Homo sapiens: one gene and its partners. The protein of the gene in region 1 purifies or fractionates together with the protein of each later gene. This does not show direct contact. Each region holds a gene or a part of one and is shown in the gene's direction. Other genes may lie near its edges. The genes, in order: CA8, KLK7, SERPINA1 and SERPINB2.

Evidence for each region.
Region 2: the proteins of CA8 (region 1) and KLK7 purify together in Homo sapiens (affinity purification with mass spectrometry; 3 studies listed by BioGRID and IntAct, with this or other methods). This does not show direct contact.
Region 3: the proteins of CA8 (region 1) and SERPINA1 purify together in Homo sapiens (affinity purification with mass spectrometry; 3 studies listed by BioGRID and IntAct, with this or other methods). This does not show direct contact.
Region 4: the proteins of CA8 (region 1) and SERPINB2 purify together in Homo sapiens (affinity purification with mass spectrometry; 3 studies listed by BioGRID and IntAct, with this or other methods). This does not show direct contact.

The regions. Positions count from the first base shown.
Region 1 is NC_000008.11:60,222,374-60,229,406, reverse strand, and holds part of CA8 (carbonic anhydrase-related protein), read left to right. Parts: intron 1-2,471; coding exon 2,472-2,534; intron 2,535-4,821; coding exon 4,822-4,870; intron 4,871-6,645; coding exon 6,646-6,758; intron 6,759-7,033. UniProt on the Homo sapiens protein: Does not have a carbonic anhydrase catalytic activity.
Region 2 is NC_000019.10:50,980,893-50,987,848, reverse strand, and holds the start of KLK7 (kallikrein-7 isoform 1 preproprotein), read left to right. Parts: upstream 1-3,998; intron 3,999-4,033; exon of another isoform or gene 4,034-4,077; intron 4,078-5,391; coding exon of another isoform or gene 5,392-5,449; coding exon 5,450-5,522; intron 5,523-5,934; coding exon 5,935-6,082; intron 6,083-6,956. UniProt on the Homo sapiens protein: May catalyze the degradation of intercellular cohesive structures in the cornified layer of the skin in the continuous shedding of cells from the skin surface. Specific for amino acid residues with aromatic side chains in the P1 position.
Region 3 is NC_000014.9:94,385,603-94,393,105, reverse strand, and holds the start of SERPINA1 (alpha-1-antitrypsin precursor), read left to right. Parts: upstream 1-4,503; 5' UTR 4,504-4,546; intron 4,547-7,503.
Region 4 is NC_000018.10:63,890,682-63,897,714, forward strand, and holds part of SERPINB2 (plasminogen activator inhibitor 2), read left to right. Parts: exon of another isoform or gene 1-219; intron 220-754; 5' UTR 755-763; coding exon 764-931; intron 932-1,939; exon of another isoform or gene 1,940-2,038; intron 2,039-3,771; exon of another isoform or gene 3,772-3,855; intron 3,856-4,582; coding exon 4,583-4,702; intron 4,703-6,409; coding exon 6,410-6,538; intron 6,539-7,033. UniProt on the Homo sapiens protein: Inhibits urokinase-type plasminogen activator. The monocyte derived PAI-2 is distinct from the endothelial cell-derived PAI-1.

The DNA.
Region 1 (7,033 bases):
GTCAGAGTTCCACCCTGAAGGGAGCAAGAGTGCACTGACCATGGACCCCAGTCTGTCTCCCTGGGGGACTGCATGGCGTCCACTTGAAAGGCCTGCAAAAGAGCTGTGCCCTTGGGCAGACTCGAAGGGTTCAGGTAGATCAGGAAATGGTGGGAGATGTTGGCAGAAATGCAGAGTTGTTCTGTTCTAGAGGGTGCAGTGGAAGATAAGGAGAGATTGAGTTAGAAGTAAAAAACAAAAAAAAAACAGGTGGTTCAGGGCTGAGATGCCAGGAAAGGAGAACGGACCAAAGTGGTTTGCATTTCCAGTGGTGGCGAAAGACAGCAAAGGTGAGAGGTGAGAAATGAGTTGTTCTCAAGGTTCCTGGTGGACTCTTGGTACCAGGTTGTGTTATCTGAACAGCTGCTTGCACGGTTTTAGCAGCTGGGGTGTGGAGATTATCATCAGTACTTGCTTTTTGCTGGTCATCATTTCTTCATACACAAATTTGGCAAGGAAGGAAAAGAAAGAGATGGCATAATAGCAGAGTTTATAGAATTTGCAAGATATGAGGTTTTGCCCATAAAGTAGAGTCTTTATAGATAGAAGGAGCTAGTAATAGTCGTTAAGAGCTACTATATGGAAAAACTATATTTGATGCTGTAGGGCATCCAGATTAAGAATAATAATGGACATTAAGTGAATTATGATGACCCAAGCCTGTTCCACAGTCTTTGTTTGATTTAATCTTATCTTCAACCCTATCATTTTTATCCTCTCCAGCAAACAGCTGAGGAAGCGGAAGGATGTAGAGGTTAACTACACTTGCTTAAGGCCACACAGCTAAGAGGTGGCAGAGTCAGGATTGGAATCCAGGCAGTCCAGTGCAAAGTGAGCCTGTTCCTGAGCACCACATTGAGTGGCCTTAGGGTTCATATGTGGACTCTTCAAAGAGTTTACAACCCAACAGGAGATGCCTGAGATGAAAACAGACCCCAAGTGCAGACGTAGGCCTCCCAGTGCTATAGTATGGTTAAACCAGTAAGACAAAAGAGAAGTCCATTTCTCCTGAAGAATGGGTAATGATTTCTGCCTAAAATTTCAGGCTGCTGCCACAGGTACATATGCATTAGGTTTTAAATGTTTTTTTGTTTTTAACTTTACAAAATTTATTTTCTGTTTTTAGAGCCTATCTCGGGAATAATTGTAGACTCTTGGAAAGTAGTTCACGTCTTGATTGTTTAGAGCTGACTGGCCTATCTTAGGTAGAGCGTTTCTTGTCTCTCTCCTCTCCCTTTGGATGCTCTTTCATCTGCATGTTTTGCAGTTAGTTAACATTGGGAGAAACAGAGAATGTAAACATATCTACAGCTACTCTGGCTTCTCTTAGGTCATTCTCCAAATATCTATGTGGAAGGAGAAAAACTGACAAAAGCAATGATTGTTTATTTGAGGTTCTAAATGACCTCCATTACTCTCCTCCATTATCATGGACCACTGGAAATTGGTCAGATTTCACTTAAAAGTTTTAAAGCCAAAGTCAAGAATATTAAATGTTAGAATTTTTTTGTCTCCATTTTTTGGGAGCATTTTATACACTAATAATATATAGTGATATGTTTTTAAAAAGAAGGCTATAAAAAGCACATTATTATTTATTTAAGAATAGAAGGGTAGTTATAAAATTATGTCTAGAAGTAATCAAGAAAGGTCTTGATTTTGGTGAATTTAACATACAAAATCACACACCTGCTTTTCTAAGTTAATATAATTTTTCAGTATTGTTAAAATCTTTATAGCAATGATCTATAAATGCCAGAGTTAAACATGGAAGGGTTTGAACATGTACTGAGTAGTTTTAATTCAAAAATATCCTTGATATTTTTATATTTAACAGTATTTTGTAATTTGATATACTACATATAGCAAAGTGAGTGATTCCTATACACAGTAAAGAGAATTTAGAATGAGTTCTTGGACATTTACGTAACTAATACTTTATTATACTAGGTTTGTCACAACTTTAATTACCTTTAGTAGACATTGACCTAGTTATTAATAAAAGGCCATTTAATTATTCCTCAAAAAGGACATTCAGATGGACTAGAACCGAGTTCTGTTAGTTTTTTTTTTTTGAGACAGAGTCTTGCTGTGTCATCCAGGCTGGAGTGCAGTGGCATGATCTTGGCTCACTGCAACCTCTCCGCCTCCTGGGTTCAAGCGATTCTTCTTCCTCACCCTCCTGAGTAGCTGGGACTTCAGGGGTGTGCCACCATGCCCAGCTAATTTTTTGCATTTTTAGTAGAGACAGGGTTTCACTGTGGTAGCCAGGATGGCCTCGATCTCCTAACCTTGTGATCCACCCAACTCGGCCTCCCAAAGTGCTGGGGTTACAGGCATGAGCCACCACACTCAGCCCTATTAGTTTTTTTTTAGTTAAAGCTAAACACTGAAAAATGTTGTGGTTGTGGTTTATGCTTTATGTTTTTCAGATAGGAAAGGAACATGTTGGCTTGAAGGCTGTGACTGAAATCCTCCAAGATATTCAGTATAAGGTAAGTCATTATTTAAAATAATATAGAAATACTGGTTGTGTAGGAGCTCCCTGTGACCACCTGCGGGCTCGATGCTGTGTTAGAAGGACTCACAGATCTCAGAAAAGCTGCTGTCCTTGTGGTTATGGTTTATTACAGTGAAAAGAAATAGGTCAAAAAGCAGAGGGAAAAGGCGCATGGAATGAAGTCCAGGGGAAACCAGGCACAAGCTTCCAGGTGTCCCCTCCCAGTGGAGTCACTTGAGGATGCCCCTAATTCTCCTAGCAATGATGTGTCACAACATGTGTGAAGTGTTGACAACTACGGAAGCTCACTCTAGCCTTAGTGTCCAGAGATTTATTAGGGGTCAATCATGCAAGCACTAAACGCATGCAACATAGCTGACCTCAGCTACTCACTCTCTAGCAGCAGCCGTCTCCCTGCCCTCTTCGCCATAAGTCACATTGTCAGCATCAGCTTATCTGTTCCAATTGGTACAGTATGTCTCAAGGCCTCAGACATGTAACAACAGGAGTTCACCATAAATACAGGATGGCCCAAGGCTGCAGGCACACAGAAACAGTCTTATCAGGTAGAATATTCCAAGCTCAGAGGTTATATCCCAGGAGCAAAGAGTTAGTCCTGAAGACAGGCCTTTATATGGGATGTGCAGGGTTTGAGCAACTCAGGCTTGCTGAGTTAACCCTTTCCTACCTGCATGCTATAGGAAAGTTGTATAAATGAAACAAATAAAAATTTGGGGAATCATATTTCAAAGTATTTATGTTAAATAAATTTAAAAAAAGAAAACAAGTACACATATGTGGTAAGATAATATCCAAGAGAAGGTGATCCACATGACCCTGCCATGATATGGCCTAGCATTGCTAGGAAGCCAATGCCACCACCACGCCCAGCTAATTTTTGTATTTTTAGTAGAGACAGGGTTTCACCATGTTGGCCAGGGTGGTCTTGATCTCTTGACCTCATGATCCACCCACCTCGGCCTTGCAAAGTGCTGGGATTACAGGCGTGAGCCACCATGCCTGGCCCAATGCCAGTCTCTCTTATAAGCAGTGCCTTCTTGGCTCACACTTAGCTGAATGTGAGTGGCCTTGGGGAGGGGAAGTAGTCTAGTCTTGTAGGGCTGCTGGAGATACAGAGCAGAAATTGAACTTGTTTAATTACAGAGGATCCAGAGACCCAAAGCCAGTTTTAAGAAAGATCAATTTGGGAATCAAGTTTGATTAGCTTTATACTAGCACAGCCCAGGGTATCCTGAACCAGGCAGAACCTCCACTGAAGATCTCCTGAGTAGGTTTGGAAGGAACCCAGCTTCCAAGGGATGCCCAGTCCAGATAAAAAAAGCTGATAAAAAGACAATAAGGGCACATTTTGACTTATATTTGTACAACTGCAGTGGACTGAGAAAATTTCCTTTATTTCATCATCTAATAGGACACCAGTCATTATGGAATTCAGGGGGATCGGGGAGGCAAGTAAGCTAGATTCTTTAATGTTTGAAATAGTCCCAGGGAGTCAGGAAGGGACTTGGAGGTTATGCAATAACTTTCCCTATTGCATCTGTATCAATAGAGAAAAATCTTTTAAGAAACATCTGAGTCACATGACAGGACTATTTTCCTCTAAAGTCTAAGCAATTTAAATGACATGATTTAAAATGATGATCTTAAATGTGAATTGTTGAATAAGAGCACAAATGATTCCCTTGAAATTTGTATCTAGCTTTGATAAACACTGATCGGAACAGAATATTTCCATCTATATCAGATCTCCCTTTCCAGATGAGGAGAGCATCTAGCATAGATCCCAGAGCTGAGTTACCAAATCCAAATAGGACAAGACAGGAAGTTGCAAGCCTGGTTGTAATGCCGGAAAGGTTAGGAGCTGAAATGAAAGCAAGCAGGAGGAAAGGCATTTTGAAAATTCCCCCATCCAGGGTTCAGGCATTTTACAATGAGAATTTAGCCCAAATCTCTGTTATGAATGTGCTCAGAGCAGAAAAGGTAACTGACATGGGGCAGATGGGGCACCAAGTGTAGGTTCCACACCAGGACTTACAGGGAGAATTGAACTGTGGTAGCAAAGAAAATAGCCATAGAATTAGAGCAGGAACCAGACAATGTTACTCCAATGAGAAGGTGGAAGGAGATACCCACAAGTCTGTGGGACCTGATGAGGCCATTCAGAAAAGACTTCATTCTAATTTTTTAGTTCTAATAGATTTTTTATTCTAAAATCTAGAAATATTACATTAACATTGGGTAAATATTTTTTTCTTTTTCAGGGGAAGTCCAAAACAATACCTTGCTTTAATCCTAACACTTTATTACCAGGTGAGTATTTACCTGATTGCATAAAATGAATTTTAACTGTGGCTATAGTCACATTGTTTTCTTCAGACTATGTAAAACTATATATTGTTAATTAATAAAACTTATTTGCAATTTGTATTCTGTTTAGCAGATACCATTTCCAGATTACTCTAAATATGGAAGTAAACCTTTTGAAATAATAAAGAGACACTTTGCCACTAGTTCCATTGATCCATGAAGAGCTTTCGTAGGATTGTCATTTGTAAAAATTGCTACCTCTGTGTAAAGCATCAGTATAATAAAATAACTTTGGCTGGGTGTGGTGGCTCATGCCTGTAATCCCAGCTACTCAGGAGGCTGAAGCAGGAGAATCGCTTGAACCCAGGAGGTGGAGGTTGCAGTGAGCCGAGATTACGTGACTGCACTCCAGCCTGGGTGACAAAGTGAAACTCTGTCTCAAACAAACAAACGAACAAACAAAGAAAAAACCTTCATGTACTTCTAAGATTGATCAGTGGAGTTCTTAATCTTTAGAGTAAAATAAACTTTGTATCTAATTTTATAAGGTTACCTCTCTGCAGTAATACTATTATTATGTATTATTCCACTTGTATTTCTGTACAGATAACAATTATACATTAAGTACTCAGAATATGATTTAAAGGTTGTTGTATATAAAATTTTGATCTTCACATTTCTCTGCCCAAATTATGTGCTGTCCCTTAGTGTTTTAAACAAAACCAGTTGATGCATTGTATCTTCTATTTTCTACATTTAATTGCTCTACAACAAACCAATTTCTATCGTATGTTAACCATTTATCCATCATATTAGTCATAAATTCCTCTAATGCAGAGCTAAAGGATTTCATAAGAATGACTCATTTTGTTTTATTGTAATATGATTTTAGTATTTTGCTGTTGCAGAAGCAGTATAGTGGTAGCTAGAACTGAATGGTTAAAAATACAGGCTTTCAGACAGACATGATCATACCTATGTAATCCCAACACTTTGGGAGACTGATGCAAGAGGATTGCTTGAGGCCAAGAGTTTGAGACTAGCCATAGCCAGACCTTGCTCTCAAAAAAAGAAGAAATAATTGCTGGCTGTGGTGGTGTGCACCCATAGTCCCAGCTGCTTGGGAGGCTGAGGTGAGATGATCGCTTGAGCCCAGGAGTTTGAGGCTGCAGTGATTCATGGTCACACCACCACACTCCAGCAGCCTGGGTGATAGAGCCAGACCCTGTCTCTTAAGAAAAAAAAAATACAGGTTATGAAGCCAGATTGCCTGAATTTGAATCCTGGCTCTGCCAGTGATTATTAGCTGAGTGACCTCAGGCAAACTACTACTCTTTTGAGATTCTGTTTCCCCATCTGAAATATAACATTAATATTACTACCTATCTCACTGGTTTGTTGTGAAGGTTAAATGAATTAAAGTAAATTGCTGGCACGTCATAAGCATTCAATAAATATTAGATATGAAATAGGTAAATTCTTTAATAAAGTGAAAAAACCCAAAATATAGATACACTTCTAAAGTGATTAAACTTGACAGGTATCTATAGTAATCCATTGATAGAAATCACTGTAAATAATAGAGAATTCATCATGCTTTTTATCAATTATTTTCTCCACAATGAGTAGTGTAAGACTGTGGGGCTCTAGTTTAAAAATGACATCCATCTTAGAAGCATCATTTGGACAGTTTGTAATTTTGAAAATTGTTGTTGGAGTCATCAGGATTGTTATTAATTCACTTGCCTTTTCCATTACATGTCCACGTGGCTGTGCAGACCCTCTGCTGCGGGATTACTGGGTGTATGAAGGCTCTCTCACCATCCCACCTTGCAGTGAAGGTGTCACCTGGATATTATTCCGATACCCTTTAACTATATCCCAGCTACAGGTGAGTGTGCTACTTTGAATCTTTCAGAGTGAAGTTCTGAGTTAAACATTGTTTCTGAGAAAGGAAAATGTCTGTTTTGTGTTTTAGCTTCCTGTAGATCAGTCATACCTTTCCAGATGAAAGTTAAATGGCTTGAACTAGTGAAAGTGATTGAAAGGTCAAGGATGGACAGAATCCAACACTAATTTATGGTCTATATTTTAAAAGTTAGTCTTTAGAGAGTTAATAGAAATCACTGAAAGAGCAAAACTTTTTATTAGTCTAGTTATTTCCTT
Region 2 (6,956 bases), on another chromosome or scaffold:
GAAGAGAGCTAAGACTGGAGGCATGGTTGAGTTTGTTGATTTATGTGGCTTCAAGATATGGAATCAAGTTAGAATCGGATTTGGATTTGTGGCTTGGGATCAGATTTGGGATCTGAGTCAATATTCTGATTGAACATTGAGGTCTTATAAAGATGATTTTGGCTACAAGGACCAAGCAACTCTAACCCAGAAGGGGAATCTGAAAAATCATGACATGAAGAGGCTCCATCGTTGGTTAATTCACCAGCTCAGTGACTTCATCAAAGACCCAGCTGATCCTCACCTCTCTGGTGGGCTACCTGCAGTGTTTTGACTTAGTCCTCTGGTCACTTCCCTCTGTGGTCCCTGGGGTGCTGCCACAGTTCCAGAATTTGCATCCAGAAAAGACACCATCTAGCAGAAGAAAAAAGTCCCCTTTCAGTGCCTCTTTTTGAAAATGAGAAAGTCTTTCCTAGAAGTGCCTCAGTGGTCTTCCCCTCCTCCTCATTGGCCAGAAGAACAGCACATGTCCATTTTCCAACTAATTAAGCAAACGAAATATGGCTTCAATGCTTGGTTCATTGAGGCTTATAGTCCTGATGAGGATAAAGTATTATCCAAACAAAATGGAGCCTCTGATAGAAAGGCAGAAGGAGTGAATGCCTGGGGACACAACAATAATGTCTACTATTATGGGTCAAATGTAGAATCGAGTTGGGGTGCCAGGCGTGGTGGCTCACACATGTAATCCCAGCACTTTGGGAGGCTGAGGAAGGCAGATCACCTGAGGTCGGGAGTTAGGGACCAGCCTGACCTACATGGAGAAACCCCATCTCTACTAAAAAAAAAAAAAAAAAAAATTAGCCAAGTGTGATGGTACATGCCTGTAATCCCAGCTACTCGGGAGGCTGAGTCAGGAGAATTGCTTGAACCTGGAAGGCGGAGATTGCAGTGAGCTGAGATCGCACCACTGCACTCCAGCCTGGGCAATAAGATCAAAACTCCATCTCAAAAACAAAAACAAAACAAAACAAAGCAAAAAAAAGAATTGAGTTGGGGTCAGGATTGAGATAAGTTTTAGGTCCAGGGTGGAGAAATAAATCCCATTTTGGGGATATAATTTAGAGGTTGAGGTCAATTCCAACTTTAGAAGTGTGTCCAACAATGGTTCCTGTCTTACTCAAAATAAAAGCCAAAGACCTTTCAGACCGCATGTCATCAGAGTCCTGTTATATTTCTGGCCTCATCACCTGCCCTCATCTCCTTTGGTCACTCTGTATTGGTCGCAGTGATTTGTCTGCTGAGGCACTTCAGATATGCTCCTTGGCTAACACACCTGCCTGCTCGCTTTGCCTGGAACTCACTACCTTCAAGCAGCCACCTGGATCCCTCCACCATCTCCTTCAAGACTTTGCTCAAATATCACCTTCACGTGGGGTCTTTGCAGCCAACCTTCCTGATATTATAACCTCAGGGATCCTCGAGGGTAGAGGGAATCAGTAACTCCCCAACCCTCTTCCTTGCTTGGATTTTCCCTTATAGCGCTTACAACCACCTAACAAACTCTACATTTTATTTGCTTATTTTTGTGCTGACCTGACAGTACAAAACAAAAACCTCTATGAAGACAGAAATTTTTCTCTGTTTTATCACTGCTGTGTCTCCAAGAGCCTGAATAGTTTCTGGCACAGAGTAGATGCTCAATGGATGCTGTTTGAATGACTACAATGAACAAAGATGAATGTACAAAGAAGTTCATCTCAGCATTATTATAATTAAAACTATCCAAGTGTATTTCAATTTGAGGCAGATGACATGCATCATGATACAAGTATAGTATGGAATATTACACAACCATTATAAAGGAAGGAAAAGTAATCTAAATGTACAAAGAGGGAAAAGTTTTCCTCTTTTTAAAAAATAAATGTTATTGTGTATATTTAAAGTGTACAATATGATCATATGCGATGTATATACATAGGACAATGATTACTATAGCTGAACAAATGAACATGTCCATCATCTCACATAGTTACCCATTTTCCTCCCCTGTGGCAAGAGCAGCTATAATCTACTCATTTAGCAAAAATCCTTGGCTGGGCGCGGTGGCTCAGGCCTATAATCGCAGTACTTTGGGAGGCCGAGGCCGGTGGATCACCTGAGGTCAGGAGTTGGAGAGCAGCCTGACCAACATGGTGAAACCCCATCTCTACTAAAAATACAAAAATTAGTTGGGCATGGTGGTGCACGCCTGTAATCCAGCTACTCAGGACTCTGAGGCAGGAGAATCACTTGAACACGGGGGAGTGGAGGTTGCAGTGAGCCGAGATCGTGCCATTGCACTCCAGCCTGGGTGACAGAGCCAGAGTCCATCAAAAAAAAAAAAAAATAAGAAAGATTCTTCTCTCCTCTATGTGTCCATGCAGTCTCATCATTTAGCTACCACTTGTAAGTAGGAACATGCCATATCTGGTTTTCTGTTCCTGCTTTAGTTTGTAAGGGTAATGGCCTCCAGCTCCATTCACGTCCCTACAAAGGACATGATCGTGTTCTTTTTTATGGCTACGTAGTATTCAATTGTGTATACGTACCACATTTTCTTAATCCAGTCTATCACTGATGGACATTTAGGTTGATTCCCTGTGTTTGCTGTTGTCAATAGTTCTACAATGAACGTACGTGTCCATGTGTCTTTAAACAGAATGATTTATATTCCTTTGGGTACACACACTGGGGCTTATGAGAGGGTGGAGAGTGGGAGGAAGGAGAGGATCAGAAAAAAATAACTAATGGGTACTAGGCTTAATACCTGGGTGATTAAATAATCTGTATAACAAACCCCCATGGCGCACGTTCACCTACGCAACAAACCTGCACATCCTGCACATGTACCCCCGAACTGAAAAGTTAAAAAAAGAAAAATAAATATTTGCTTATAAATTAATAAATGAAGCCCTCAAAAATGTTCTATTAGATAATGTTAAGTACAGACATTTTTGTTATAAATACATAATATACAAAGAAATCTATGTATAACATGATTAAAATGACCATAAGAACATAGATCCTAAACATGGCAAATATTAGTGGGGTGGGGTTAGGGAAAGCGTTGTTTTTAACTTACACCTCTCTGTTAGAGTTGGGAATGGGTTCAGGCGTAATTACAGGCACGACTGGGATCAGCTTGGACAAGTTCCCCCAGGCGGGCCAGAATTAGGATGTAGGGTCTAGGCCACCCCTGAGAGGGGGTGAGGGCAAGAAAATGGCCCCAGAAGCCGGGCGCAGTGGCTCACGCCTGTAATCCCAGCACTTTGCGGGGCCGAGGCGGGCACATCATGAGGTCAGGAGATCGAGACCATTCTGGCCAACATAGTGAAACCCGGTCTCTACTAAAAATACAAAAATTAGCTGGGAGTGGTGGTGCGTGCCTGTAATCCCAGGTACTCGGGAGGCTGAGGCAGGAGAATCACTTGAACCTGGGAGGCGGAGCTGGCAGTGAGCCGAGATCGCGCCACCGCACTCCAGCCTGGCGATAGAGAGAGACTCCATCCAAAAAAAAGAAAGGAAGGGAGGGAGGGAGGAGGGAAGAAAGAAAGAAAACCGCCCCAGAGAAGGACCCGAGCCAGAGCCTATTCTCTGAGCTCAGCGACTGCTTGAATCCCGCTCCTGCCCCTCAGACCCAGCGCACCGGGTCCCTCCCCCGAGAGCAGCCAGGAGGGACTGTGGGACCAGAATGTGCGGGGGCGCAGGAGCTGGGCACCGCCCGTCCTTCGGAGGGAGGGTGGAGAGAGAGTGCAGTGGTGCCAATTGCTCTCGCTGCGTCAGGGTTCCAGATAACCAGAACCGCAAATGCAGGCGGGGGTGTCCCAGAGTCGGCTCCGCCTGCACCCCAGGGCGCTGGGGCCGGGCATGGGGCGGGGGGTGATATAAGAGGACGGCCCAGCAGAGGGATGAAGATTTTGGAGCCCAGCTGTGTGCCAGCCCAAGTCGGAACTTGGATCACATCAGATCCTCTCGAGGTGAGAAGAGGCTTCATCAAGGGTGCACCTGTAGGGGAGAGGGTGATGCTGGCTCCAAGCCTGACTCTGCTCTCGAGAGGTAGGGGCTGCAGCCTAGACTCCCGGTCCTGAGCAGTGAGGGCCTGGAAGTCTGCAATTTGGGGCCTTTTAGGGAAAAACGAACTACAGAGTCAGAAGTTTGGGTTCCACAGGGAAGGGCAAGATCGGAGCCTAGATTCCTGGGTCTCTAGGGATCTGAAGAACAGGAATTTTGGGTCTGAGGGAGGAGGGGCTGGGGTTCTGGACTCCTGGGTCTGAGGGAGGAGGGCCTGGGGGCCTGGACTCCTGGGTCTGAGGGAGGAGGGGCTGGGGGTCTCGACTCCTGGGTCTGAGGGAGGAGGGGCTGGGGGCCTGGACTCCTGGGTCTGAGGGAGGAGGGGCTGGGACCTGGACTCCTAGGTCTGAGGGAGGAGGAGCTGGGGCCTGGACTCCTGGGTCTGAGGGAGGAGGGGCTGGGGCCTGGACTCCTGGGTCTGAGGGAGGAGGGGCTGGGGCCTGGACTCCTGGGTCTGAGGGAGGAGGGGCTGGGGCCTGGACTCCTGGGTCTGAGGGAGGAGGGGCTGGGGCCTGGACTCCTGGGTCTGAGGGAGGAGGGGCTGGGGCCTGGACTCCTGGGCCTGAGGGAGGAGGGACTGAGACCTGGACTCCTAGGTCTGAGGGAGGAGGGACTGGGACCTGGACTCCTGGGTCTGAGGGAGGAGGAGCTGGGGGCCTGGACTCCTGGGTCTGAGGGAGGAGGGGCTGGGGCCTGGACTCCTGGGTCTGAGGGAGGAGGGGTTGGGGCCTGGACTCCTGAGCCTGAGGGAGGAGGGACTTGGACCTGGACTCCTAGGTCTGAGGGAGGAGGAGCTGGGGGCCTGGACTCCTAGGTCTGAGGGAGGCGGGGCTGGGGGCCTGGACTCCTGGGTCTGAGGGAGGAGGGGTTGGGGCCTGGACTCCTGAGCCTGAGGGAGGAGGGACTTGGACCTGGACTCCTAGGTCTGAGGGAGGAGGAGCTGGGGGCCTGGACTCCTAGGTCTGAGGGAGGAGGGGCTGGGGGCCTGGACTCCTGGGTCTGAGGGAGGAAGGTGCTAGGGTCTGGACTCTTGGGTATGAGGGAGGAGGAGGTTAGGGGTCTGGACTTCTGAGTGTAAGGAAGGAGAGGCCAGAGAAAGGAATTTCTGGGTCTGAGGGAGGAGGGGCTGGGGTTCTGGACCCCTAGGTCTGAGGGAGGAGGGGCTGGGGCCTGGACCCCTGGGTCTGAGGGAGGAGGGGCTGGGGCCTGGACTCCTGGGTCTGTGGGGGGAGGGGCTGGGGCCTGGACCCCTGGGTCTGAGTGGGGAGGGGCTGGGCCTGAATGCTTTCTCCTTCTCAGCTCCAGCAGGAGAGGCCCTTCCTCGCCTGGCAGCCCCTGAGCGGCTCAGCAGGGCACCATGGCAAGATCCCTTCTCCTGCCCCTGCAGATCTTACTGCTATCCTTAGCCTTGGAAACTGCAGGAGAAGAAGGTGAAAGCTGGACTGGGAAGTCTGACCTCACCTCAGGGCCCCCACTGACCCTCTCCAAGGAGTCCCTGAGTCAGAACCCTTCCCTCCTCAAACAGCTTCCATCCTGGGAGGACCAGACTGTCGGCTGAAGCCCCCGCTCTTCCTGCTTCTGCTGACTCAGGGGGTCTCTGTCCCCTCCAGGCCCTGCCTCCTGTGCTCAGGGTCTCTCTGTGGTTCCCCAGATGAGATGCGCCTCCTGGGTTTCTGAGTGGGCTCCTTCTGTCTGTCTCTATCCCTATCTCTTGCTTTCTCTGTATTTCTCCACACATTTTCATCTGTCTCTGTCCATCTCTGACTCTGGGAATCCCTGAGGTGCAGCCTCAGCCTTCCCCTAATGCTAGCTACCCACGTGCTCCTCCATGTCTCCATCCAGCCCAGGGTGACAAGATTATTGATGGCGCCCCATGTGCAAGAGGCTCCCACCCATGGCAGGTGGCCCTGCTCAGTGGCAATCAGCTCCACTGCGGAGGCGTCCTGGTCAATGAGCGCTGGGTGCTCACTGCCGCCCACTGCAAGATGAAGTAGGTGCCGCCCAAGTCTCTGCTGGAGGTGCACCAGCGTCTCCAGCTCGCTATGGGGGTGGAAGGGCAGTCTTTCTGTGCCTACGGCTCTATTCTCCTCTCTCTGGGTCTCTGTCCTCCTCTCTCTGGGCCTCTGTACCCCCTCTCCCTGGGGCTCTGTCCCCCTCTCTCCCTGGCTCTCTGTCTCCCTCTCTCTGGGTCTCTGTCCCCCTCTCTCTGGATCTCTGTTCCCCTCTCTCTGTGTCTCTGTCCCCCATTCTCTCTAGGTCTCTGTTCCCCCTCCTCTCTCTCTGGGTCTCTGTCCCTCTCTCTCTGGTCTCTGTCCCCCTCTCTCTCTGGATCTCTGTCCCCCTCTCCCTGGGCCTCTGTACCCCCTCTCCCTGGGGCTCTGTCCCCCTCTCTCTGGGTCTCTGTCTGCCTTTCTCTCTGGATCTCTGTTCCCCTCTGTGTCTCTGTCCCCTTCTCTCTCCGGGTCTCTGTTCCCCCTCCTCTCTTTCTGGGTCTCTGTCCCTCTCTCTCTGGGTCTCTGTCCCCCTCTCTCTCTGGTCTCTGTTCCCCCTCCTCTCTCTCTGGTCTCTGTCCCTCTCTCTCTGGGTCTCTGTCACCCTCTCTCTCTGGGTCTCTGTCACCCTCTCTCTCTGGTCTCTGTTCCCCCTCCTCTCTCTGTGGGTCTCTGTCCCTCTCTCTCTGGGTCTCTGTTCCCCTCTCTCTCTGGTCTCTGTTCCCCCTCCTCTCTCTCTGGATCTCTGTCCCCCTCTCCCTGGGGCTCTGTCCCCCTCTCTCCCTGGCTCTCTGTCTTCCTCTCTCTGGGGCTCTGTCCCCCTCTCTCTCTGGTCTCTGTTCCCCTCTCTCTGGGTCTCTGTCCCTCTCTCTC
Region 3 (7,503 bases), on another chromosome or scaffold:
TATAATGTATAGCTTTGCCTTATTTTTCTCTGTCTGAGTAAGGATAAAGAGTAAAGGCCAGGCACAGTGGCTCACACCTGTAATTCCAGCACTTTGGGAGGCCGAGGCGGGCAGATAACTTGAGGCCAGGAGTTTGAGACCAGCCTGGCCAACATGGTGAAACCCTGTCACTACTAAAAATACAAAAATTAACTGGAATTGGTAGCACATGCCTGTAATGCCAGCTACTCTGGAGGCTGAGGCACGAGAATCGCTCGTAATTCCAGAATTCGAGAGGTGGAGTTTGCAGTAAGCCAAGATTGCGCCACTGTACTCCAGCCTGGGTGACTGAGTGAGACTCTGTCTCAAAAAAAAAAAAAAAAAGAAGAAGCTGTGAGTAGGCCACATAGTTCCAGAAAATGCAGAAATCCCCCCTCCCCTCCCCAACACACAGGAAGTGGCTCAGGAGATTACACACAGAAGGAAAGTGTGTCTGCTGGGGTTTTGCAAGTTGGCTAATTTGAAAGGTGACTGGAGGAGGTGAAAAAATGGTGCAAACTTCATTCATTCATTAAATGAGTTATAAGAAGACAGACACAAGTGTCCATTATGCTAACAGAGCTCTGTGTTAAACACCCCACCAGCATCGCCTCATCTAAGCCTCAGAAGAGCTATGTGGGAAAGAAACTTTTATCCCTATTTTATAGATGAGGAAACCAAGGCTCAGAGAACTGAGGGCCTCCCCCGGATCCAAGTCCACCTAGCTGCAGTCACCCCACATCCTCTGCATGTCACAGGTGCTCAGAAAGATGCTGAAGGCACCTGGCCCTTCACCTTCGGAAAGCCAAAATGAGCACGGCCCCTAAAGAGGGGATTGACAGCCTTTTCTGGAAAAAATGGAAGTTTGAATCTGAGGAGGTGTCCCTCAACAACAGGTGCTGCTCCCCAAATCTGGGGCCAAACGCAGCAGTTGTTCCCCCACTTAGACCCCTGAGACCCATCTATATGGTTTTTCAGAGCCAGGACACATCCCCAAAGGTCATGGCCTTTGGTGGTTAGCATTGACTTGGGGCCCATCACATGCCAGAGGCTGCCCGAAGTGCTTAAATGTTATTATCTCATTCGATCTTCACAGTCCTGATGGAAGTGACTCTTCTTAGAGTCTTCCTATCTCACAGATGAGGAAACCGAGGCACAGAGAGGTTAAGTGGCTTGTCTAAGAGCTCACAAAAAGAGCGATGGAGCTAAGGCTTGGCCCCAGATATTAGATCCCGAACCCACGCCTTAACCAGTGACCTGCACTGACTCTCAAAGAAGGAAGCTGGTGCCTGGGAAGGAGGGTGCATAGTGAGGGTGTGCATGGGGTGTGTGTGTTTGTGGGGTGGCCAGCACTCTCCGGGGGCACTTTGCCAATGAGTTCAGCTCCCATGAAGTCCACTGTTGTTCTCCTGACCAGCCACTCAGTCTTGATTTACTTGGCCCAGGGCCACTGGCACACCTCACCCCCTTACCCGATTCCTTGCTGCAGACCCCAAATCTCGACTCTCACATCCCTATCCAGCCCATACCACGAGGCTCCCATCTCCAGGCAGGGCCCTGTGGTGGGGCAGGGCCTCCCCCAGATGCCCCTTACTCATGACCAGCTCACAGGATCTTCCCATGATGCATTTCCTCTGGGGGGATCAGCCCAGATGCTGCAATAGACAATTGTGGAAGTAACCAGGTGGACAAGACTTTCCCCCTCATGTCCTGGGGTTCCTGGGGGCACAGTATCCTTGTGAATGGCCACTGAGTACTCCCACCCCTCCCACCACAACCCCCGGGATTTTGTCCTGGTGCGTTTTTCCAGATTATCCTAGCCCTTCCTCCCAGGATGGATGTCCAGAGCAGGGCGGGGGCTGAGCCTAGAGCCCTGCCAAAAGAGCAGGACCCCAAATTCTGAGCCCCTTACTTGCCTCACCTGCTCCCACCCATGCTTTCTTCATTCCTCCTCCAAAAGCCCCAGCTCCCCACTGCAATCCCTTCTGCACCCAGCCAGGTCCTATGACACACACCTCCCCAGTGCACACAGACCTGCCCAACTGTGGGGCTGCCCACTGGGCATTTCATAGGTGGCTCAGTCCTCTTCCCTCTGCAGCTGGCCCCAGAAACCTGCCAGTTATTGGTGCCAGGTCTGTGCCAGGAGGGCGAGGCCTGTCATTTCTAGTAATCCTCTGGGCAGTGTGACTGTACCTCTTGCGGCAACTCAAAGGGAGAGGGTGACTTGTCCCGGGTCACAGAGCTGAAAGGGCAGGTACAACAGGTGACATGCCGGGCTGTCTGAGTTTATGAGGGCCCAGTCTTGTGTCTGCCGGGCAATGAGCAAGGCTCCTTCCTGTCCAAGCTCCCCGCCCCTCCCCAGCCTACTGCCTCCACCCGAAGTCTACTTCCTGGGTGGGCAGGAACTGGGCACTGTGCCCAGGGCATGCACTGCCTCCACGCAGCAACCCTCAGAGTCCTGAGCTGAACCAAGAAGGAGGAGGGGGTCGGGCCTCCGAGGAAGGCCTAGCCGCTGCTGCTGCCAGGAATTCCAGGTTGGAGGGGCGGCAACCTCCTGCCAGCCTTCAGGCCACTCTCCTGTGCCTGCCAGAAGAGACAGAGCTTGAGGAGAGCTTGAGGAGAGCAGGAAAGGTGGGACATTGCTGCTGCTGCTCACTCAGTTCCACAGGTGGGAGGGACAGCAGGGCTTAGAGTGGGGGTCATTGTGCAGATGGGAAAACAAAGGCCCAGAGAGGGGAAGAAATGCCCAGGAGCTACCGAGGGCAGGCGACCTCAACCACAGCCCAGTGCTGGAGCTGTGAGTGGATGTAGAGCAGCGGAATATCCATTCAGCCAGCTCAGGGGAAGGACAGGGGCCCTGAAGCCAGGGGATGGAGCTGCAGGGAAGGGAGCTCAGAGAGAAGGGGAGGGGAGTCTGAGCTCAGTTTCCCGCTGCCTGAAAGGAGGGTGGTACCTACTCCCTTCACAGGGTAACTGAATGAGAGACTGCCTGGAGGAAAGCTCTTCAAGTGTGGCCCACCCCACCCCAGTGACACCAGCCCCTGACACGGGGGAGGGAGGGCAGCATCAGGAGGGGCTTTCTGGGCACACCCAGTACCCGTCTCTGAGCTTTCCTTGAACTGTTGCATTTTAATCCTCACAGCAGCTCAACAAGGTACATACCGTCACCATCCCCATTTTACAGATAGGGAAATTGAGGCTCGGAGCGGTTAAACAACTCACCTGAGGCCTCACAGCCAGTAAGTGGGTTCCCTGGTCTGAATGTGTGTGCTGGAGGATCCTGTGGGTCACTCGCCTGGTAGAGCCCCAAGGTGGAGGCATAAATGGGACTGGTGAATGACAGAAGGGGCAAAAATGCACTCATCCATTCACTCTGCAAGTATCTACGGCACGTACGCCAGCTCCCAAGCAGGTTTGCGGGTTGCACAGCGGGCGATGCAATCTGATTTAGGCTTTTAAAGGGATTGCAATCAAGTGGGGCCCCACTAGCCTCAACCCTGTACCTCCCCTCCCCTCCACCCCCAGCAGTCTCCAAAGGCCTCCAACAACCCCAGAGTGGGGGCCATGTATCCAAAGAAACTCCAAGCTGTATACGGATCACACTGGTTTTCCAGGAGCAAAAACAGAAACAGGCCTGAGGCTGGTCAAAATTGAACCTCCTCCTGCTCTGAGCAGCCTGGGGGGCAGACTAAGCAGAGGGCTGTGCAGACCCACATAAAGAGCCTACTGTGTGCCAGGCACTTCACCCGAGGCACTTCACAAGCATGCTTGGGAATGAAACTTCCAACTCTTTGGGATGCAGGTGAAACAGTTCCTGGTTCAGAGAGGTGAAGCGGCCTGCCTGAGGCAGCACAGCTCTTCTTTACAGATGTGCTTCCCCACCTCTACCCTGTCTCACGGCCCCCCATGCCAGCCTGACGGTTGTGTCTGCCTCAGTCATGCTCCATTTTTCCATCGGGACCATCAAGAGGGTGTTTGTGTCTAAGGCTGACTGGGTAACTTTGGATGAGCGGTCTCTCCGCTCTGAGCCTGTTTCCTCATCTGTCAAATGGGCTCTAACCCACTCTGATCTCCCAGGGCGGCAGTAAGTCTTCAGCATCAGGCATTTTGGGGTGACTCAGTAAATGGTAGATCTTGCTACCAGTGGAACAGCCACTAAGGATTCTGCAGTGAGAGCAGAGGGCCAGCTAAGTGGTACTCTCCCAGAGACTGTCTGACTCACGCCACCCCCTCCACCTTGGACACAGGACGCTGTGGTTTCTGAGCCAGGTACAATGACTCCTTTCGGTAAGTGCAGTGGAAGCTGTACACTGCCCAGGCAAAGCGTCCGGGCAGCGTAGGCGGGCGACTCAGATCCCAGCCAGTGGACTTAGCCCCTGTTTGCTCCTCCGATAACTGGGGTGACCTTGGTTAATATTCACCAGCAGCCTCCCCCGTTGCCCCTCTGGATCCACTGCTTAAATACGGACGAGGACAGGGCCCTGTCTCCTCAGCTTCAGGCACCACCACTGACCTGGGACAGTGAATCGTAAGTATGCCTTTCACTGCGAGAGGTTCTGGAGAGGCTTCTGAGCTCCCCATGGCCCAGGCAGGCAGCAGGTCTGGGGCAGGAGGGGGGTTGTGGAGTGGGTATCCGCCTGCTGAGGTGCAGGGCAGATGGAGAGGCTGCAGCTGAGCTCCTATTTTCATAATAACAGCAGCCATGAGGGTTGTGTCCTGTTTCCCAGTCCTGCCCGGTCCCCCCTCGGTACCTCCTGGTGGATACACTGGTTCCTGTAAGCAGAAGTGGATGAGGGTGTCTAGGTCTGCAGTCCTGGCACCCCAGGATGGGGGACACCAGCCAAGATACAGCAACAGCAACAAAGCGCAGCCATTTCTTTCTGTTTGCACAGCTCCTCTGTCTGTCGGGGGCTCCTGTCTGTTGTCTCCTATAAGCCTCACCACCTCTCCTACTGCTTGGGCATGCATCTTTCTCCCCTTCTATAGATGAGGAGGTTAAGGTCCAGAGAGGGGTGGGGAGGAACGCCGGCTCACATTCTCCATCCCCTCCAGATATGACCAGGAACAGACCTGTGCCAGGCCTCAGCCTTACATCAAAATGGGCCTCCCCATGCACCGTGGACCTCTGGGCCCTCCTGTCCCAGTGGAGGACAGGAAGCTGTGAGGGGCACTGTCACCCAGGGCTCAAGCTGGCATTCCTGAATAATCGCTCTGCACCAGGCCACGGCTAAGCTCAGTGCGTGATTAAGCCTCATAACCCTCCAAGGCAGTTACTAGTGTGATTCCCATTTTACAGATGAGGAAGATGGGGACAGAGAGGTGAATAACTGGCCCCAAATCACACACCATCCATAATTCGGGCTCAGGCACCTGGCTCCAGTCCCCAAACTCTTGAACCTGGCCCTAGTGTCACTGTTTCTCTTGGGTCTCAGGCGCTGGATGGGGAACAGGAAACCTGGGCTGGACTTGAGGCCTCTCTGATGCTCGGTGACTTCAGACAGTTGCTCAACCTCTCTGTTCTCTTGGGCAAAACATGATAACCTTTGACTTCTGTCCCCTCCCCTCACCCCACCCGACCTTGATCTCTGAAGTGTTGGAAGGATTTAATTTTTCCTGCACTGAGTTTTGGAGACAGGTCAAAAAGATGACCAAGGCCAAGGTGGCCAGTTTCCTATAGAACGCCTCTAAAAGACCTGCAGCAATAGCAGCAAGAACTGGTATTCTCGAGAACTTGCTGCGCAGCAGGCACTTCTTGGCATTTTATGTGTATTTAATTTCACAATAGCTCTATGACAAAGTCCACCTTTCTCATCTCCAGGAAACTGAGGTTCAGAGAGGTTAAGTAACTTGTCCAAGGTCACACAGCTAATAGCAAGTTGACGTGGAGCAATCTGGCCTCAGAGCCTTTAATTTTAGCCACAGACTGATGCTCCCCTCTTCATTTAGCCAGGCTGCCTCTGAAGTTTTCTGATTCAAGACTTCTGGCTTCAGCTTTGTACACAGAGATGATTCAATGTCAGGTTTTGGAGTGAAATCTGTTTAATCCCAGACAAAACATTTAGGATTACATCTCAGTTTTGTAAGCAAGTAGCTCTGTGATTTTTAGTGAGTTATTTAATGCTCTTTGGGGCTCAATTTTTCTATCTATAAAATAGGGCTAATAATTTGCACCTTATAGGGTAAGCTTTGAGGACAGATTAGATGATACGGTGCCTGTAAAACACCAGGTGTTAGTAAGTGTGGCAATGATGGTGACGCTGAGGCTGATGTTTGCTTAGCATAGGGTTAGGCAGCTGGCAGGCAGTAAACAGTTGGATAATTTAATGGAAAATTTGCCAAACTCAGATGCTGTTCACTGCTGAGCAGGAGCCCCTTCCTGCTGAAATGGTCCTGGGGAGTGCAGCAGGCTCTCCGGGAAGAAATCTACCATCTCTCGGGCAGGAGCTCAACCTGTGTGCAGGTACAGGGAGGGCTTCCTCACCTGGTGCCCACTCATGCATTACGTCAGTTATTCCTCATCCCTGTCCAAAGGATTCTTTTCTCCATTGTACAGCTATGAAGCTAGTGCTCAAAGAAGTGAAGTCATTTACCCCAGGCCCCCTGCCAGTAAGTGACAGGGCCTGGTCACACTTGGGTTTATTTATTGCCCAGTTCAACAGGTTGTTTGACCATAGGCGAGATTCTCTTCCCTGCACCCTGCCGGGTTGCTCTTGGTCCCTTATTTTATGCTCCCGGGTAGAAATGGTGTGAGATTAGGCAGGGAGTGGCTCGCTTCCCTGTCCCTGGCCCCGCAAAGAGTGCTCCCACCTGCCCCGATCCCAGAAATGTCACCATGAAGCCTTCATTCTTTTGGTTTAAAGCTTGGCCTCAGTGTCCGTACACCATGGGGTACTTGGCCAGATGGCGACTTTCTCCTCTCCAGTCGCCCTCCCAGGCACTAGCTTTTAGGAGTGCAGGGTGCTGCCTCTGATAGAAGGGCCAGGAGAGAGCAGGTTTTGGAGTCCTGATGTTATAAGGAACAGCTTGGGAGGCATAATGAACCCAACATGATGCTTGAGACCAATGTCACAGCCCAATTCTGACATTCATCATCTGAGATCTGAGGACACAGCTGTCTCAGTTCATGATCTGAGTGCTGGGAAAGCCAAGACTTGTTCCAGCTTTGTCACTGACTTGCTGTATAGCCTCAACAAGGCCCTGACCCTCTCTGGGCTTCAAACTCTTCACTGTGAAAGGAGGAAACCAGAGTAGGTGATGTGACACCAGGAAAGATGGATGGGTGTGGGGGAATGTGCTCCTCCCAGCTGTCACCCCCTCGCCACCCTCCCTGCACCAGCCTCTCCACCTCCTTTGAGCCCAGAATTCCCCTGTCTAGGAGGGCACCTGTCTCATGCCTAGCCATGGGAATTCTCCATCTGTTTTGCTACATTGAACCCAGATGCCATTCTAACCAAGAATCCTGGCTGGGTGCAGGGGCTCTCGCCT
Region 4 (7,033 bases), on another chromosome or scaffold:
GTGGGGTGGCAGAAGAAGGGGGTCTTCTAGTCCTCCCAGTAATGAACACCCCAGTATAGGAAGTCTTTTTTAGTAAGGCTGTGGTATGTGTGGTGCATATAGGGAAGGGGTTCTGGGATAGGGGCTGGGTGAAACTCCAAACCTTCAAACAATGAGTCAAAGTCACTTTAGAAGCAGGAAAGCAGAAAGAAGATTGACCGTCTTACCAGATGCAACAAGGTATGTATGCAGGTGGCATATATTTCAATATGTGTATATCTTCCTGTGTGGCAGTGTGTGTGGTGTGGATGTGTGCGTTGTGCTTGTGGGGGCAGCATAGAAGTTGAGAGCATGATCCTAGGGTCTGCCTATCTGGCTTCAATTCCTACTCCTGTCCCTATATATTGTCATTGTTATTCTATGGAATGCCACAAAGTGTCGCTGCTCATCATACAAAACACTTCATGTATCTCAGGACTGGCTATGTAATTTACAGCGTCTGGTGCACAATGAAAATGTGGGCCTTTTGTTTAAAATTATCAAGAATTTCAAGATGGCGATAGGAGGGCATTTGGCTAAACAAGGGGCTTTTTACGGCTGCACAGGTGGTATGTCCATGAAGCTGTCCCTGACCTGCCTCATGTTGTTCCATGAGGAAGAACAGACAGGGAATCTGTCCCTACACAGAATGCAGCCTGTCCTACTGTTGCTGACCTCACCCAAAATGTTACCTTATGTTTCAGAGCTGTTTTTTTCTTCCTCTCTTTGCTTCTAGATTGAAACAATGGAGGATCTTTGTGTGGCAAACACACTCTTTGCCCTCAATTTATTCAAGCATCTGGCAAAAGCAAGCCCCACCCAGAACCTCTTCCTCTCCCCATGGAGCATCTCGTCCACCATGGCCATGGTCTACATGGGCTCCAGGGGCAGCACCGAAGACCAGATGGCCAAGGTGAGTTTGAGCTGAAGCTCCACATTTGGGCCGAGTAGTTCCTGAATGGAATTGGAGAACTGCTCTTGTTTTATGCTAAAGACATTTTAACTCAGGAGGTCAGCAATCATCACAGGTAATGAAGCACTGATCCTTACAACACAAATTCCTTAGATTCAAATCTATAAGACAGCCAAGCCCCCGAATCCCTCAACTGTAGCTGTTGAAGGCATATGGGAGTTGAATAGCCTGCAAGGCTGGACACAGTTATGAGTGACCACATCTTATATTTTAATAATATAATATTCTTATTTTTCAAAGTTAGTGTTTTGTACCCATTATCTCATTCAGTTTTAAGACAGATATCATTTTACAGATGAGAGCCCTGGTGGTGTCAGAGAAGCCCCCACTGTCTCCTAACTCCTAGCCTGGGCTCCTTCCCATTACTGTGCCACTGTGGTGTTTGTTCCCTATTCCTATGAAGAATTCCTTCTAATAATGTTAAGAGAGTATCACAAAGGGAAAAAAAAAAAAACATACCAGGGTGGTGCTCACTATACCCACAGGATGCATGGATAGTGTTGTAGCTGCAGAAGATCATGCCTGTGAGGTCACGGTAGCAGAATGAGACCTGGCATTATTATGGCCAGCCCTGAAAACCAAGGTAGATGGGATGCACAACATCATTGTGAGGGATTTCTGCAAGGCCACTGCCTGCCTTCCTTGGTGAATGGACGTGGACTCAGTCAGGAAACTCTTTCCACGGAGTCTGGGCCCTTGAAATTATGCCGGACTACTTCAATTATACACTGCAATCGTTACTGTAATAGTCACTCAGCACATACAAAATTCTTGTGATCATGTTACTTCCAAGGTTAGTGACCTCGATGTGGCCATGATATCATTAAAATTCCTTTGCATTCACACATACAAACATTAACATTAAATGCTTTAAGGACACGCATGCATTGTGCATGCAGTCACACCAAGATGCCGCCGGCTGGTTTCCAGTTTCCCACGAGAATGTACCTGAGTGTAAATACATTCTTTCCATGCACATGGTGACCCATGTAAGGTGGGCCTCATTTGAAGTTTGAAGTTTCACAGAGAGAGCATTGGCCAATATTGCTGCAGGAAGACAAGGGATGGGTGAATCAATCTCTGTGTTTGTGACAGTTTAAACATTGAGACTTACAACAAAACTCAATTGCTCAACTCCCTGACACAAGTAGTCTTTTGCAATATTCTTTCCCCATTATTTTTTATTTTTTGCCTTGAAAGAATAAAGATAGTAAATTGGCACAAAAGCTTTAGAAACATCAGGTCTTAGGTTTTTTTCTTTTTTCCTTTCTTTTTTTTGAGATGGAGTCTCGCCCTATCACCCAGGCTGGAGTGCAGTGGTGCGATCTTGGCTCACTACAACCTCCAACTCCCAGGTTCAAGCCATTCTCCTGCCTCAGCCTCCCGAGTAGCTGGGATTACAGGCGCCTGCCACGATGCCCATCTAATTTTTGTATTAGTAGAGATGGGGTTTCACCATTTTGGCCAGGCTGGTCTCAAACTCCTGACCTTGTGATCCACCTGCCTCGGCCTCCCAAAGTGCTGGGATTATAGGCGTGAGCCAGTGCACCCGGCCTAGGTTTTTTTGTTTTTTAAATGTAAAGGAATCAGTAGCAATATATTTTGGGAGCAAATGCTAAATGAAGTGCTCTGGGTTGTTAAAGTAAAAATCTTGATTTTGGTACTAGAGGAAAATAAACTGATTGCTCTGGACACAAGACAGCTTTTCTGTGTCTAAGAAGTGCTTTAAGCCTTTGGGACTATGCGAGGATTCTATATAGTCTTTTTTTTTTTGAGACTCTATATATATCGTCTTTTGACAACTCTGTTGCATGTGTAGATTTTGAAATTCAAATGTTAATATGATTGCTTCCCAGATAAAAAGAAAAAGACATTTATTGGCTGGAGAAAGCAGCACAGACTTTGGGGACAGACGTATCTGTGTTTGAGTCATGGCTTTGTTCCTTACTACATGTGTGTGAGGACATTGAAACCATTTGCATCTCAGTTTTCTCATCTACAAAATGGGAATAAAAATGTGTAGCATGCAAGAAAGTTGTGAAGATTAGAGGTACTATGTAAGGCACTTAGTAGCAGTTGCTATAATAACAACCAATACTTATTAGTGCCTTAGCCAGGCATCTTTCTAAGAACTTCTTATAAATTTACTCACATAAGACAAAATATTATGAGGTAGGTACGATGATTACCGTACTCATTTTACAGATGAGGGAATCAGGGCAAGAAGAGGCCACACAGTTGAGAATTGCTGTAGCTGTTAGAAGTGGTACATTTGTAGTGAAAGAAAAGAATACATAAAAGATATAAGCTCCTGGATGGCATAGGTCTGTGGGAATTAGGATATAAGCTCTTTTCCTTACAGTGAGGCAACAGACCCATCCAGGCCAAACTGCCTCACTATTTTCTCTGTGGCCTTTGTGTGGACTAGGGGCAGCTCACAGTCCCACTTTTGCAGGGACATCTCCCTGAGTGACTTTAACACTGATTCAGGAAGGCTTTAGTGCTAGCCCAAAGAACCCTGATTTAAGGGTCAATTTCCTTGGAAGAGAGGAAAACCAGCCAAGCTGTCGTAGGAAATCTTCTTCTTTTACGTGAGGGTGGAGTTGCACCACTTCTTTTCAGAGAGTACTAGGCAGGACTTACGATGTATGACTCAAAGAGCAGAAAAAGACCTCACAAACCCTAACACCTCTCCTTCTAGCCCAGAAATTCACCAACTTGCTGGACAAGGCTGCCTTAATTAACTTCATTAGCAGAACCCCAACCATCAAGCCACTTACCAGATCAGCTTCTCCTCAGGGACCCCATAGGGAGGTGCTGCAGGACCAAGGGTTCCCAAGGAGGTGGGATGGGGTGGGTGGCTGGGAGGCAGGGCCAGCTTGCAGGTATTAAGACTGGCAGACCAAGGCGGGCAGGCAGCAGTGTTGTGGGAAGGGGATCTGAGGAAGCTTCAGAGGGGACAGTCCTTGCTGCCAGCTTCCCCGTGTCAGCCAAAACTGCCTACTTACTATACGAAGAGATTCACAGTGTCATCAGACCAACTTGTCCCTCACATGGACATAAATTTCTCTGTGTATGAATATGGTATGTGTAAATATTTTAGGTGAACCCTGTTAATATTGCATGACCTGTTTTATGCCTTAGCTGACTCTGGCTTGTAGTTTTTGACAGATTGAAAGTATTTTGTGTATAAGGCCACTGAAAAGAGAGAGACACACAAGGTTCTGAGTTAATCTTGTGACTTTCTTTAAAATACTGGCATTTTTTTTTCAAGACCATTTATTGGTTGGATATAATTTAGATAATTTGGGGAAGAGGTTTTAAATCATTTCATAATAACAATTTGTTTTCCAAAATGGCCAGGATATAAATTAATCTAAAACACCTCATGCTGTTTTCTATAAGGGAAATTTAGGTTGGCTGATACTTTTATATTACACAGAAAGAGTATTGAGTATCTATGGTTGTTCCCCATGTATAAGGGAAGGGAAAAGATCTAGGACCATTTTAGAGCCACCTGATAGCCATCTGTTTTAAAAGTTCAGTAAATCCGTGGGCAAGTGTAACCGTTTTCTCTAATTCTGATTGCAGGTGCTTCAGTTTAATGAAGTGGGAGCCAATGCAGTTACCCCCATGACTCCAGAGAACTTTACCAGCTGTGGGTTCATGCAGCAGATCCAGAAGGGTAGTTATCCTGATGCGATTTTGCAGGTATCTGACTTACTGGTCCAAATTTCTTTTGTGGTTTATTTTTGCAATCTTCCTGTCTTAAAGCCACAGTGTCAGACTGGGAAGGAAGCGAATATACCCTCCCCCATTCACAGAAAGAAAACTAAGACTCAGAGTCATTAAGAAAAACATGTCCTAAGATGATACCCATAACGAGAGACGAGCCAGGACAGAATCCAGACTTCATGAGTTTTAGGCCAAGCCTATTTACTTCTAAATTCTCTCATGCCTCTCTGTCATTGGTGAGGTATGTGTAATTTATCATAAATCCACAGTAGAGACTCCTAGAATACACGTGTATGGATAAGGATTTCCAGAGGAGAGAGGGTAGGGACTGACAATTGATTGAGAAATGGCAGAAGGCTGGGCCCAATGATTGCATGAGAAATCACTGACCTTCAGGTAACTTTCCTTCTATCTATCTAATCTATCATCTATCATTGATCTCTCTCATCTATCTTACCTATCATACATCTATCAATCCTATCTATCTATATATTTTATGAATCATCTATTTATCATCTATCTTCTCTGTCATCTGTCTATCTTATCTATTTATCAATCAGCTATCTCGGGGAGTAACACCTTTCCTCAGTACTCCATTTCCTTAAATGTCAGCTATCCAGTTAAATTATAAAAACTGAGTATAGACTGCTCCTGTTGGCAACCAACTTCCACAGTCATGCTTATGAGGTAGATTATGAAGAGGTATCTCCCAAAGCTCTCTTCCTGGGCACTCTGAAGCTCCTTCTACCCATTGCCCAGGGAATTATGGGCTAGAGGAGGTGGACAGGATCCTGATCATGTGGAGATTCCGCCAGGTGTTCTGTGGTACCTGGCAGTCCATCAGGAGGGCTCTGTCCCCTGCCCTAGGACAGGCTGCTGCTGTGACCAAGCCCTGTGTCTGACATGGTGCTTACAAACTTCAGTTTGAGAACTGAAATAACCATTCACTTTTGTGGTTTTCTAAAACCCATGTTTTCCACTGCATAGTTTGCCCCATAAAATAGGTATCTAGAGAAGCTATATGAACTTTGTAAGATCATTACTAAGGCAACATTTCCTCCCTGCCAGCTTTACTGAGGTATAATGGACAAATAAAAATTGTACATGTTCAAGATGTACAGTGTGATGACTTGCTATACCTATACATTGTGAAATGATTACAGTCAAATTAATGAGCACATCCATCACTACAATTACCCACCATTTGTATGTATGTGTGTATGTATAGTGAGGACACTTAAAAAATATATTCTTCACAAATTTCAAGTAAACAGTTTTATTAACTATAACTATTAATGAACACAATCTTATTAACTATAGTCATTATACTGTACATTAGATCCCCAGAACTTATCCATCTTATAAATACAACAAAAATTCCTTAGAGACTTTGAAGTTTAGGAAACTGAGAAGGGGCCTTTCTTCTAGGCTGTTGGTCACCTGGTTAAATCCAATCCATAGACAGAGCAAAATTGGAAAGAAATTAAAATTCACCTTATTAGTTTTAATGTACCACATCCTTATCGAAATGATTTTCTCAAAGATTCCTCTAATGTACCAAAAATAAAGTATGTATTAATATAGCATTTCATGATTGTATTCAAAAACTATTACCATGGCTTAAGAACTATCTTGTTTAGTAGTTCTGTGTTATATATAAAGAATTCCTTCTTTCTTTTCAAGGCACAAGCTGCAGATAAAATCCATTCATCCTTCCGCTCTCTCAGCTCTGCAATCAATGCATCCACAGGGAATTATTTACTGGAAAGTGTCAATAAGCTGTTTGGTGAGAAGTCTGCGAGCTTCCGGGAAGTAAGTGAAACCTGTAATTGAAATGGCTGGATCCCAAACAAGTAATGAAGTCACTTTCAAAGCAGTTCTCTACAATTCAACAGTTCATAAAAGCAGAGTTGGAATTCCACACCAGCTCCCTAGGGCTGGCCTTGCGTAACAGCTGCCCTTCCTGTACCCTCTGGGGCTTCCTCCTCTTCCCATTGCAAATGTCCCAATCTCAGAGTCATAAATCAGGAAAACAAATGCAACTGTTTTCCAGAGACACTATCCCCCAAGTCAAACCTCTTTCCTTTTATTCTGTCTCTATAATGCAAGGAGTACAAGAGGGTGGATAGAGTTGGGGAGTAAGCGTGGACAAAGGGGTCTGCACTCTTTCCCCCTTCAGCACCTGCCTTCCATAGCCAACCTCCACTCCCACCCTACCCCAGGTCTCCTAATTTCAATGGGAAGACCATAATTCACCATTATGCCATGGCTTGTTTGGTATGTATTTTATGTAGCCTTTGTCATTTT